Linked DNA regions of Homo sapiens: region 2 is linked to region 1. The links come from fine-mapping of genetic effects on gene expression. A gene starts in region 1. The other region holds a variant in brackets. All regions are shown on one strand. Distances are between the middles of the regions.

Evidence for each region.
Region 2: its variant is fine-mapped to the expression of ACSL4 in nasal epithelium (TOPMed, PIP above 0.99).

What each region holds. Positions count from the first base shown.
Region 1 is chrX:109,730,760-109,736,144 of GRCh38, forward strand. It overlaps ACSL4 (acyl-CoA synthetase long chain family member 4), which reads right to left and starts at 2,498. Exons shown (of 16, transcript NM_001318510.2): 1 at 2,380-2,498. LOC105373311 (a long non-coding RNA gene) reads left to right here and starts at 1,752. Exons shown (of 1, transcript NR_158569.1): 1 at 1,752-4,199. RefSeq lists enhancers at 1,861-1,910, 1,971-2,110 and silencers at 2,233-2,353, 2,451-2,760.
Region 2 is chrX:109,790,074-109,795,458 of GRCh38, forward strand. No RefSeq gene overlaps it. Among named protein-coding and RNA genes, the nearest start is that of ACSL4, 60 kb to the left of the region's middle. The variant T/C (reference allele first, on the strand shown) is at 3,137.

The DNA.
Region 1 (5,385 bases):
GGGTTCACGCCATTCTTCTGCCTCAGCCTCCCAAGTAGCTGGGACTACAGTCACCCACCACCACGCCTGGCTAATTTTTTGTATTTTTAGTAGAGACGGGGTTCCACCGTATTAGCCAGGATGGTCTCGATCTCCTGACCTCATGATCCGCCGGCCTCGGCCTCCCAAAGTGCTAGGATTACAGGCGTGAGCCACCACACCCAGCCATTCCCTTATAAATTTCTAAAAGCCATGGACATTTAAAAAATAGTGCGGTATAACACACATTTCACTTGCAAGCAGAAATTAACATAATACCCAACATTTGTAAAATGCTTCTGAGTTTATAGATTTTCACATATAATTATTTATTTAATCAGGATTAAGAACTAAGTATACCTAAATTGAAACCACTATACACAAACCTTTGAGAAAAACATTCTAGTCAACTGGTATAACAGGATTTATAACAGCCTTAACGCAAATTGCATTATATGTGTGTGTGTATACCTATATATACACGTGTGTATATATATATTTGTCATATATATTCATTATAAGAATATATCATTCAAATTGGGGGACTTGTGGATCATTTCAACAACCATAAAGACACTTATTTTACAGATGCAAAAACTAAGAGAGGTGAAGTGACTTGTTCAAGGTTAAATATATATCTAGAGTTGGGTCTAGAACCTGAGCCTCTCCAGAGTTCCAATTCATTTCTCTTGTCTGAATTGAACAAGACTCTTCTTTCTTCACCCATCTCACCCCTACCAAAAATACTGAAAGAAATATCTTAATCTAAATCACTTGTGTTTTTAAATAGGGGGTTTTCCAAAAAAAAAAAAAAACCCACAAAATTGAATTTACTCAAGCTTTCAATTGCTGTATTACACCTTCCATGGATTTTTAGTTGTCAAATTATTTCTTATAGCAGGACAATAAGGTACTTTATTCTAAGGTACAAGTATACTAACAGTTTAATGTTTCATCCCCCACCTAAATGGCAGAGAGTGTTAATTCTAACAGGAGTCTTACATGTCTTACACTTTAGCAGTTTCAATCAAAAGATGAGCTATTTTACAATTTAAGGAAGAGGCCTTACACTGTTAAAATCTTGACCGATATGCTCAATGGCAGTACCATCATTGAATCTCCACCTGCTGCCTTACGTATCAAGAACATTTAAAAGTCTTTCTTGTTAGAGACAAAATAAAAGAAAAACTAAGGTGACAAGCGACTATGAGAAATAAGGCTTTAATCAGGTTAAATTTGCATTATGCAGCCTGCATGAATTTAGAGGTCCTAGAATCAAAACACTAGAAGGAACCTTTGATATGCTCTAGTTCAACAGACTGATTTTTGCAGAAGAGGAAACTGAAGCGCTGATGAGACCATTAACTGATAAAGCAAACCGCTTACTTTTTCAAAGGGATTCATTTCAATGCCATTTTACCCTTATTTTGCATCTCACTGTTGTTTCTCAGAGCGACGATTGACCTTTTTTTAGGTGAAAAGAGCGAATAGAGCGTATTAATTTCAAGAGGGTGAAAAATGCCTTTGAAGGAGGAGATGCTGGAGTGAAGAGGAGAAATGACGTCTTATTTAAAATATGTAACCCCTTGATGGGGTTAGACAATGAATCATATTCTCCTAGATTTTTCTATGTCTATAGACATCAGCCACAGTTCTTTCAGGCACTCAAACGAGAGGAAGAGGAAGTGAATAAAGCTCATACTAAATATATAGCACCCACTGAAGGCAGGGATGTAGACAGAAAGAACGGGGGTGGGGGAAGGAAGGAAAGCACGCTTCGCCAGGATCCAGCTGTTTTCTAACAAACCTAAGCCTACGGAAGCTAGGAAGATATCGGAAGCAAGGAAGATATCGGAAGCGACGGCATCCCTCAAATTCGAGAGGGCGGATGCCTCTAGGGCTAGAGAGGCTCCCTAGCCCTCAGTTACAGAGCGACTGGGAGGGGACAAAATGGAGTTGAGGTTTAGGGGCACCCTAAAGGTCGTTTGGAGGTCTAGCAAGCACTTCATGGTCTCCTCCGGAAAGGGCCGTGGCAAAGCCTAGTACCCCGATCAGGAAGATGACTTCTGGCCCTCGGGATGCGGTGAGCGGCAGGAAGAGGCAGGCTGGGGTTCCGAGGACCCCAGAGTCCATCACAGGAGCAGATACAGTGACCTCGGGAATCTTCCCGGCCCCAGCGGAGGCGAGCGGATAGATAGCCCTGGCTCAAGGAAAAAAGCGAGCCGACTCCAGGAGCTGGAATGCCCACCCAACCTCCTCCCGGCTCAGGTGAGGTACGCCAGTCCCCCTCTGGAAATGGGGCCCTGGTACCGACAGGGCAGGGGTGCCGGGGCCGCAACCTCCCCATCCAGGGATACTCACCGGAGGGGCGGCCCACCGCGTCTTCGCAGCCGGCCGGCGCCTGGCACTCGGAAAGCTCGCAAAAAGGAACCGCGTGCCCGCTAGCGCTGGGACGAGGAGGAGCGCGCGGCGGAGGCCAGAGAAAAAGCCGCAGCGGCGCGCGCGCACCCGGACAGCCGGCGGAGGCGGGACTCAGCGCGAGCCCGGAAAAGACGCGCCCGGAGGGGCGGGCGGAGCGGGGGCGCGCGGTGGTGTGGCAGAGCCAGCCGAATCGCTGGCTGCAGACGGCTCGGCCCACCCACGCGCCCGCCCCCGCTCGCCCGGGACGTCAGTCGAAAAGGCGGAGCCGAACGGGCTTCCCGGGGCGCGGGAGGGGCGCTGCGAGGAAGGCGAGGCGGCTAACGGCTCGCCTCAAGTTGTTGCTCCCGCTGGCGATCCGCTTCTGTCAGTCTCGCTGCTGGTGTCGTTGAGTGTGTTTCGGGATGTCCTTGCGCCTAACAGCAGTGAGGCGCAGAATTGGCCCACGCCCTCACCTGCGGCTTGCTTCGCAGGACTCCACCCCAGGATAAAAGTTCCCCTCGGGTCATCTTCCAGCTGCCCTCAAAAGACACTCATTTTTGGGTTTCACTGCTCCTCTTTAAGAGAGCTATCTTGAACACTTTGACTAAAAGCATCTTGCTCCTGTAAGCCTGAACTAATGCCTCTCATCCGTTTATCTTGCCTCTTACTGCGTTAAGATCCCCGCTCACTCCCACTGATGAAATATCACAAGGACGCAGGATTTTCACGTTGTCTTTCATTTCCACGATGGTATCATGGCAAAAAAACCCCCAACTGATAAGGAAAAGTCACCGCAGCTTTGTGACATCTTACTAGCCCTGATCATTGCTTATAAGCCGGTCATACGAATGCTGTTCCAACAGATGCAAGAAATTGCTATTAAAATTAAAATGCCAGCGAACTATCTGAGGGCTTCAAAAGGGACAGACCATAATTGCAAATGAGGCCTGATAAACTGCCAAGAATATATCACCCAAAAAAATAAATCTCAAGAATTCTTCCAGTTCCCTGATGCGTAATGGTGAACTAGCTTCCTGTTCCTGATGGTAATTGACATTTCACTTCACTTGCTGATTTCCATTTTCCCATAGAATTACCATTTGTGCTTGTGTGTGTGTATATATATATGTATATATAAAATGCCTTACCACCTGAGATTACAAGCTAGAGTAGTTCTTCAGTGTGCATCACAATTATCTGGGGTGCTTGTTGAAATGTAGGTACCTGGAGCTACAACCCCCAGGTATTTTGATTCTGATCTGGGTAGGGATAAGAAATTTGAATTTTTAATAAGCAGCCCAGGTGACACTAAAAGTGGTTAGCTGAGAGCACAGAGCTATAGTTTTTGTGTTACTACTCTAAAGCCATATTACCAATTCAATTTCCAAGAAACCCACCCACTTACATATAATATACCTATAAATATTGCTAAGACAGTCATGTAGCTTCCTTTTTCAAGATTGACCTACAAAGTTCAGTACTTCAAACAACGAGTTTAATTGTCATGTTTATTTTATGAAATCTTGTTTTAATACCAGAAATAAGCAATCATATGTCAGGTACGTAATTCACTGGGTAACTATGATGTACAGAGCACTATCACCTACAGTTGGGTTAACACAAATGAAATTGAAGAAATGAATATCGCTGTTCTCAATAAAGTTAGTGTCTAGTTGTGGAATTAAAATATAGATATAATACAAACCCAGTGTAGCACATAAATCAGTGTGCTGGATGAAGATGAAAAAGAACTTGTAATTAAAGAGTACTTTTGCCAGTTTCCTTTATTGTCGGTCTCTTAGCCCAGACATTTTCAATTAGGTAATTTCCTCTGAACAGAGTCTTCAGCTTACTGAAGTTCCTCCAGCTCTACAAGATATAAAGGAAAGAAATCACTATAGCCTGAAACTATCCGTTTTTTGGTATACAAATGTGTGTATGATATACATATAGATATGTTTATCAGACCAAGAAACTACTTGGATTTTCAAGATCTCTTATTACTTAAGCTATTCATTAGTGTGTACAGTTCTGGCTGTCTTCATCACCTACCACATCTCACCTTCTTCCACATTTAACTGCACCCAAGTTGAAGAGGAAAGAAGAACTATACCTCCAAAAAGGAAACCAAGTATAACCACGCTATTTCCAGCTTTCCTTTTTCGGAGTCAAAACAAACCTTGCTTAATTTCTTGTCATCAGAAACCTTCCAGAAATTACTGCCCAGGAGCAAAATATTTCCCAAGCAGCTGTCTGACATTTTAAAGAGAACATTTGCAACGTTGTTTATTAGTTAGGAAGATAGGGTATTATTATCCCTATTTCACAGATGAAGAAATAGATGCAGGTTAAGTGTCTTGTCCAGTCACACAACTAAGTAGTAACAGAGCCTGAATTTCCTACTACACTGCTTATGACTCCTAGACCAGGGTGCTTGCCGCTACATTAAGCTGCCTCTGTAATGAGTCCTACCCAGAACTACCAACCCAATTAGAAATGGAGTAGATAAACGTATGGAAATGGAAGAGTTAGGAAAATGTACAATGCAATTGACAGATTCAAAATGCAATGTAATAAGTACTAAAAGCATGAGAATTAGTCTGTTAGAAGCTAAACAGAATTTAAAGGACAGCTCTGTTAACAGGCACTGATATTTAGGCCTTGCCTATTTTATTATTCTGTAACAAGAAGCTGAAACAGATAGCCAGGCTGCTCTTGGCATTAGTTATTTATGGAAGGGCAGAAAACAACTGTTCTTCATTGACTGTGTAACAAGCCTTTGCGTGTTAAACTTCACGGGTTTGTAGAATAATAATAATTTTCTCCTGTGGTCTAAATACAAGCAGCAGGGCTTCATAATAATATTTGCATTGACAAGTTGTGTTAGATTTTGTCATTAACAAACCTTATTTTTTGCAGACCCAACAACCAGGCCAAATATTGTCTTTAGTGGCTTGTGTTAAACAA
Region 2 (5,385 bases), 59 kb after region 1:
AAGAACCCTATAAGGTAGGTACTGTTATTATCCTTCATTTTACAAATAAGGAAATTGAGACACAGAGAGAATAAATAACTTGCCCCAAGGTCACCCAGCTAGTGAGTGAAGGCTGGCTCCAGGGTCTGGGCTATTAACAACTGTGCTGAGAAGAAGAAAGGAAATACACAAAAGAGTTCTCTGGGGCAGTGATTTTTACATTACGTTTACATGATGATCATTTTGATTATGTGAACAAGGAATTACAGGAAGAAGGTAGAATTCGGGGATTAAAAAGGATGTTGGCAAGGAAAAAAGAATAATGATAATGGTCAGGAGCCTTGAGAGTACGTGACCTTTGGGCGCGGTGGCTCACGCCTGTAATCCCAACCCTTTGGGAGACTGAGGTGGGTGGATCACCTGAGGTTGGGAGTTCAAGGCCAGCCTGGCCAACATGGCGAAACCCTGTCTCTACTAAAAATGCAAAAATTAGCCGTGCGTGGTTGTGCACACCTGTAGTCCCAGCTACCCAGGAGGCTGAGGCAGGAGAATCGCTTGAACCCAGGAGGTGGAGGTTGCAGTGAGCCGAGATCATGCCGCTGCACTCCAGCCTGGGTGACAGAGTGTAACTCCGTCTCTAAATAAATAAATAAATAAATAAATAAATAAATAAATAAGAGAGAGAGTATGTGACCTTGGGAAAGTCATCTAACTTCTTAGTAAAATTATCCTGTGTATGACATGAGTAATTTATGTAATGTGCATAAATCAGTGCCTGACACATAGGAAGCCCTCAATAAATGGAATAATTACTGTTTTTGAAATTATTATTACCTGTTACTATTATTAATCAGAGTACATGAAGACAACTTATTATTGTCAGGATCTGGGATTTTATGCCACTGGCAAGCTAACAAATTAGCTTTCCACAGTTTAATGGATGATGGCAGAAGACATGAGAGTTCAGGAGTAAAGGATTTTACTCACAGCACAGCAAGTAACATGAGCATCAGCATATTTGCATTGGTTCCCCGTTGCCCTCAAGTTCCACAGGCTTGACATTTGGGAACCCAGGTAGATGCTGAGTACACAGTGGGTTTGCATCAGAGTGGAAGAACACTGAGCTTGGAGAATTTATAGCTTTTACAATGGGCAGTAAGCAAGCTTGCTCTTTGTCCCTGAAGATCTTGTCTCCTCTCTGATGCACACTGGAAACAAATGTCTTAGAAATGGCCTTTCCTTGGAAACTTGAGAAGCAGGTTGAGAGAGGGAAAGAGAAGAAATGGCCCAAGTAAAGAGTAGGCAAGGCTTTGCATACTCAACAAAAGCATGCAGGGATGTTCAGGGACCATGGCAGATTGCCTCTCACAACTGTTATTATTATTATCACCTACTACTATGAACCAGAGTAAAACATGACTTATCTTTTGTCCCTGTTTCTATCTGCACACATTACATGCTGTACCTTCTTTCTCTGGACCCTGAATTGATCTTTTGAGGAATTACCTAATGACTCAAATAAAAAGACTATTCTTCCCTTACCTCTTCTGATTTCCTTTTCCTGACTGCAGACTGAGGTGTCTCTCACTCTTCCTTCCTATTTTACTTCAGCCTGAGACATCATACAGAGTTTTACTCTTTTTTTTTCCCCACTACAATAGGCATTTTGAAAACTCATTAATTTTTTGGAGCCAGAACAAGCATGCTATCTTCCAGCATGACATCTCCAACTGGAAGCATTGCTTTTTCCACAGGGAGCCAAATAAAATGTCACCTTTTAGGCAAGGTGTGGCTTTCTCCAGAATGAGCTTTGAAAACTTATGATCATCTGTAATCCCAGCACTTTGGGAGGCTGAGGCGGGCAGATCACTTGAGGTCAGGAATTTGAGATGAGCCTGGCCAACATGGTGAAACCCTGTCTCTACTAAAAATACAAAAATTAGCCAGGCATGGTGGTGCGCGCCTGTAGTCCCAGCTGCTCAGGAGGCTGATGCAGGAGAATTGCTTGAACCCGGGATGTGGAGGTTGCAGTGAGCTGAGATCACACCACTGCACTCCAGCCTGGGTGACAGAGCGAGACTCTGTCTCAAAAAAAAAAAAAAAAAAAAGAAAAGAAAAGAAAAGAAAACTTACGATCAACATACATTTCATCAGGCTACCTGGAATAGTCATCTATATTTCACTGAATATTAAATATGCCTGGCACAATTAAACTGCAATATCCATCAGAAATTCTTTTCTAAATCAGGGCCAGAAAGTGTTAGTGCAGAAAGAAAACTTAGATGTTGACTGTATTAGTTTCTTAGAGCTATCATGACAAAATACCACAAACTGTGATGGCTTGAAACAACAGAAATTTATTCTCTCGTAGTTCTGGAGGCTAGAAGTCCAAAATCAAGGTGCCAGCCGGGCTACAGTCCTTTTGAAGCTTCTAGGGGTAGATCTTTTCTTACCTCTTCCAGCTCTTGGTAACACCAGGCATTCCTTGGCTTGCAGCTGCGTAACTCCAATCTCTATGTCTAGCTTTACATGGAGTTCTTTTTGTGTGTTTCTCTTTTCTTCTAATAAAGACACCAGTTACACTGAATTAAGGGCCCACTCTACTCCAGTATGACCTTATCTTAACTAATTACATCTGCAATGACTTTATTTCCATATAAGGTCACATTCTGAAGTGCTAGTAGTTAGGACTTCAACATATTATTTTGGGAGGGGACACAACTTAACCTATAACATTGATTGATTCTTTTACTTTGCTGATAATAAAATGAGACACAAGAAGGTCATGAAGTTCCCACAGTCACTGCTCTTTAAATTCCATCTTTCTGGATTTAGGACCCTTCCCCACTTTCTCCCCCAAGAATGGCTGAAGCCCTCAGACCTTGTCTAACCTCTTGGTCTTCTAACCCATTCTCTCTGTTGACTTTTAATATCTTATCCCTCACCTTGCTGCTCTGCTGCATGACCCCTGCCCTGATGCCACCTATGCCCCAAAGTGTGCGCCATGAGAGGCAGTCTTCATGTCTCTGAACACTCCATGGTGAAAACACAATAGACATTGGAGTGCACTTGTGCCTTTGCTTTGGATGAAGTCAGAATGAGCCTCTTGAAGAATGTGTGGGCTGGTAGAAAAATTAATATGGACAATAATCATATA[T/C]GGAAGTTTATTGCTGAAAATTGTCTTGGGATGATAGGCAAGTCATAGCTATATTATTTTAAATGATACAAAACAAACACACCTGAGAGAGGACTTTTTTTCAGACTACCACAGGGCAAGTATAAGCAAGTGAAACCTACGGACCTAAAGCCTTTTCTTGGTTCTAGAGGTGTGCTCACATTCCTCTGGGATGGTAAAACACACAGGAAGGTGATTCAGAGCTTCCTTCAGGAGATTAATGCTTCAAAAGCCAAACCCTCTGGGCAAGCAAACTTTCCCTTGGTCTTCTTGGATTTTCTTCTTTACTTGATGCTGAAGGCGTTTCATGTACTAATTAAGAGATATTTATCTTCTTTTTAATTCAACTGAAAAATACCTATAGAAAGGCTATATCAAGTTAACGCCTATCACTGAATAGACTTAATAGTGTTATTTTCTCTTATTGAAATGTACTCAGCACCATCAAGCCTATTATTGTATTTATATCCTGAAAATGCCAACTACATAAATAGAGGAAGACCAGGTTTGATGATTACATGAATTATTACAATTTAGAGGAAGATCATAGAACTTGCAAGATCCAAAGGAACCTTTTTTTTTTAAGTGGTCTTCCACAGCACTCATGTTTGCCTCTAGAGTTCATCAAATTTCATTTATTATCAACTGGCATGGTTACTTAGGTCATTCCTGCCGCTTAGAATAGAATTGGTAGAGCAGGTCCCTGATCTCTACCATAAACCCTATCAATCATTTTGGGTTGAAAAACAACAACAACAACAAGTACAACAAAAACAGTGTGGTCTTCCTTTAATATCCCAACTGAGCCTTTTGTGAGCAGGGGCCAACTCAATTCAAAAGTAGGTATACTCCTAATGGTGGTTGCCCAGGGCTGGGGGAAGGGGAAAAGGGGAGTTACAGTTTAACGGGTATAGGGTTTCAGTTTTGTTTGTTTTTTTTTTTTTTTTTTTTTTGAGACGGAGTTTCACTCTTGTTGCCCAGGCTGGAGTGCAATGGCGCACTCTTGGCTCACCACAACCTCTGCCTCCGGGTTCAAGCGACTCTCCTGCCTCAGCCTCCCAAGTAGCCGGGATTACAGGCATGTGCCACGACGCCCAGCTAATTTTGTATTTTTAGTAGAGACGGGGTTTCTCCATGTTGGTCAGGCTGGTCGCGAACTCCCAACCTCAGGTGATCCACCTGACTCGGCCTCCCAAAGTGCTAGGATTATAGGCGTGAGCCACCACATGTGGCCAGAGTTTCAGTTTTGCAAGATGAAAAAGTTCTGGAGATCTGTGGTACAACAACGTGAATATACATAACACTACTGAACTGTACCCTTAAAATGGTTAAGGTGCTAAAATTTGTTATGTATTCTTTTACCACAATACATTTTTTTTTTTAAGATGGAGTTTCACTCTTGTCCAGGCTACAGTGCAGTGGCGTGATCTCAGCTCACTGCAACCTCTGCCTCCCGGTTTCAAGCGATTCTCCTGCCTCAGCCTCCCGAGTAGCTGGGATTACAAGTGTGCACCACCACACCCAGCTAATTTTTGTATTTTAGTAGAGACAGGCTTTCACCATGTTGGCCAGGCTGGTCTCGAACTCCTGACCTCAAGTGATTCTCCCACCTCAGCCTCCCAAAGTGCTGGGATTACAGGCGTGAGCCACCACGCTCAGCCTAAAAATGTTTAAATTAATTTTTTAGAAAGTAGATATGCTAGTATGATTAAATAGGGGCCCCAAAGCCTCAGCCATCTGCTGAGCCTCATCTCAGCCTCTCCACAACTACCTACTTTAGTACCTAACAATCCCCCTACATCCAATTAAAGTTCCTCTTTCAAGTAAAAGCATTTTCCACATCAGGTCCCCATATAGACTACATACAGATTTGCAGGGAGAAAAGGGATAGTCAGGTAACTATTAATATGAACTAATTGAATAAAAATGTATAGGTGAGAAATTAGGACATGAAGCTACACAATATTTTTTTGAAGGAAACAATCTAGAAAAGTTGGAAACAAGGGATACCCTAAGAGTAGAGACACAGGAGGACCAGCGAGGTATGAGTGAGGTGAGACTCCCTGGAACGGGAGGAAAGGTCTTCAATATGAATCCTGAAAGGGCTTAGTAGTGTACCAAACATGCAATGTACCTATGGCACAACCAAATCCAGGTTGGCCCTGTGTCAAAACTAAGAACATAAATGCTGACAATATCAAGGACCAGGATGAGTGTCTGGGACTGGAAAA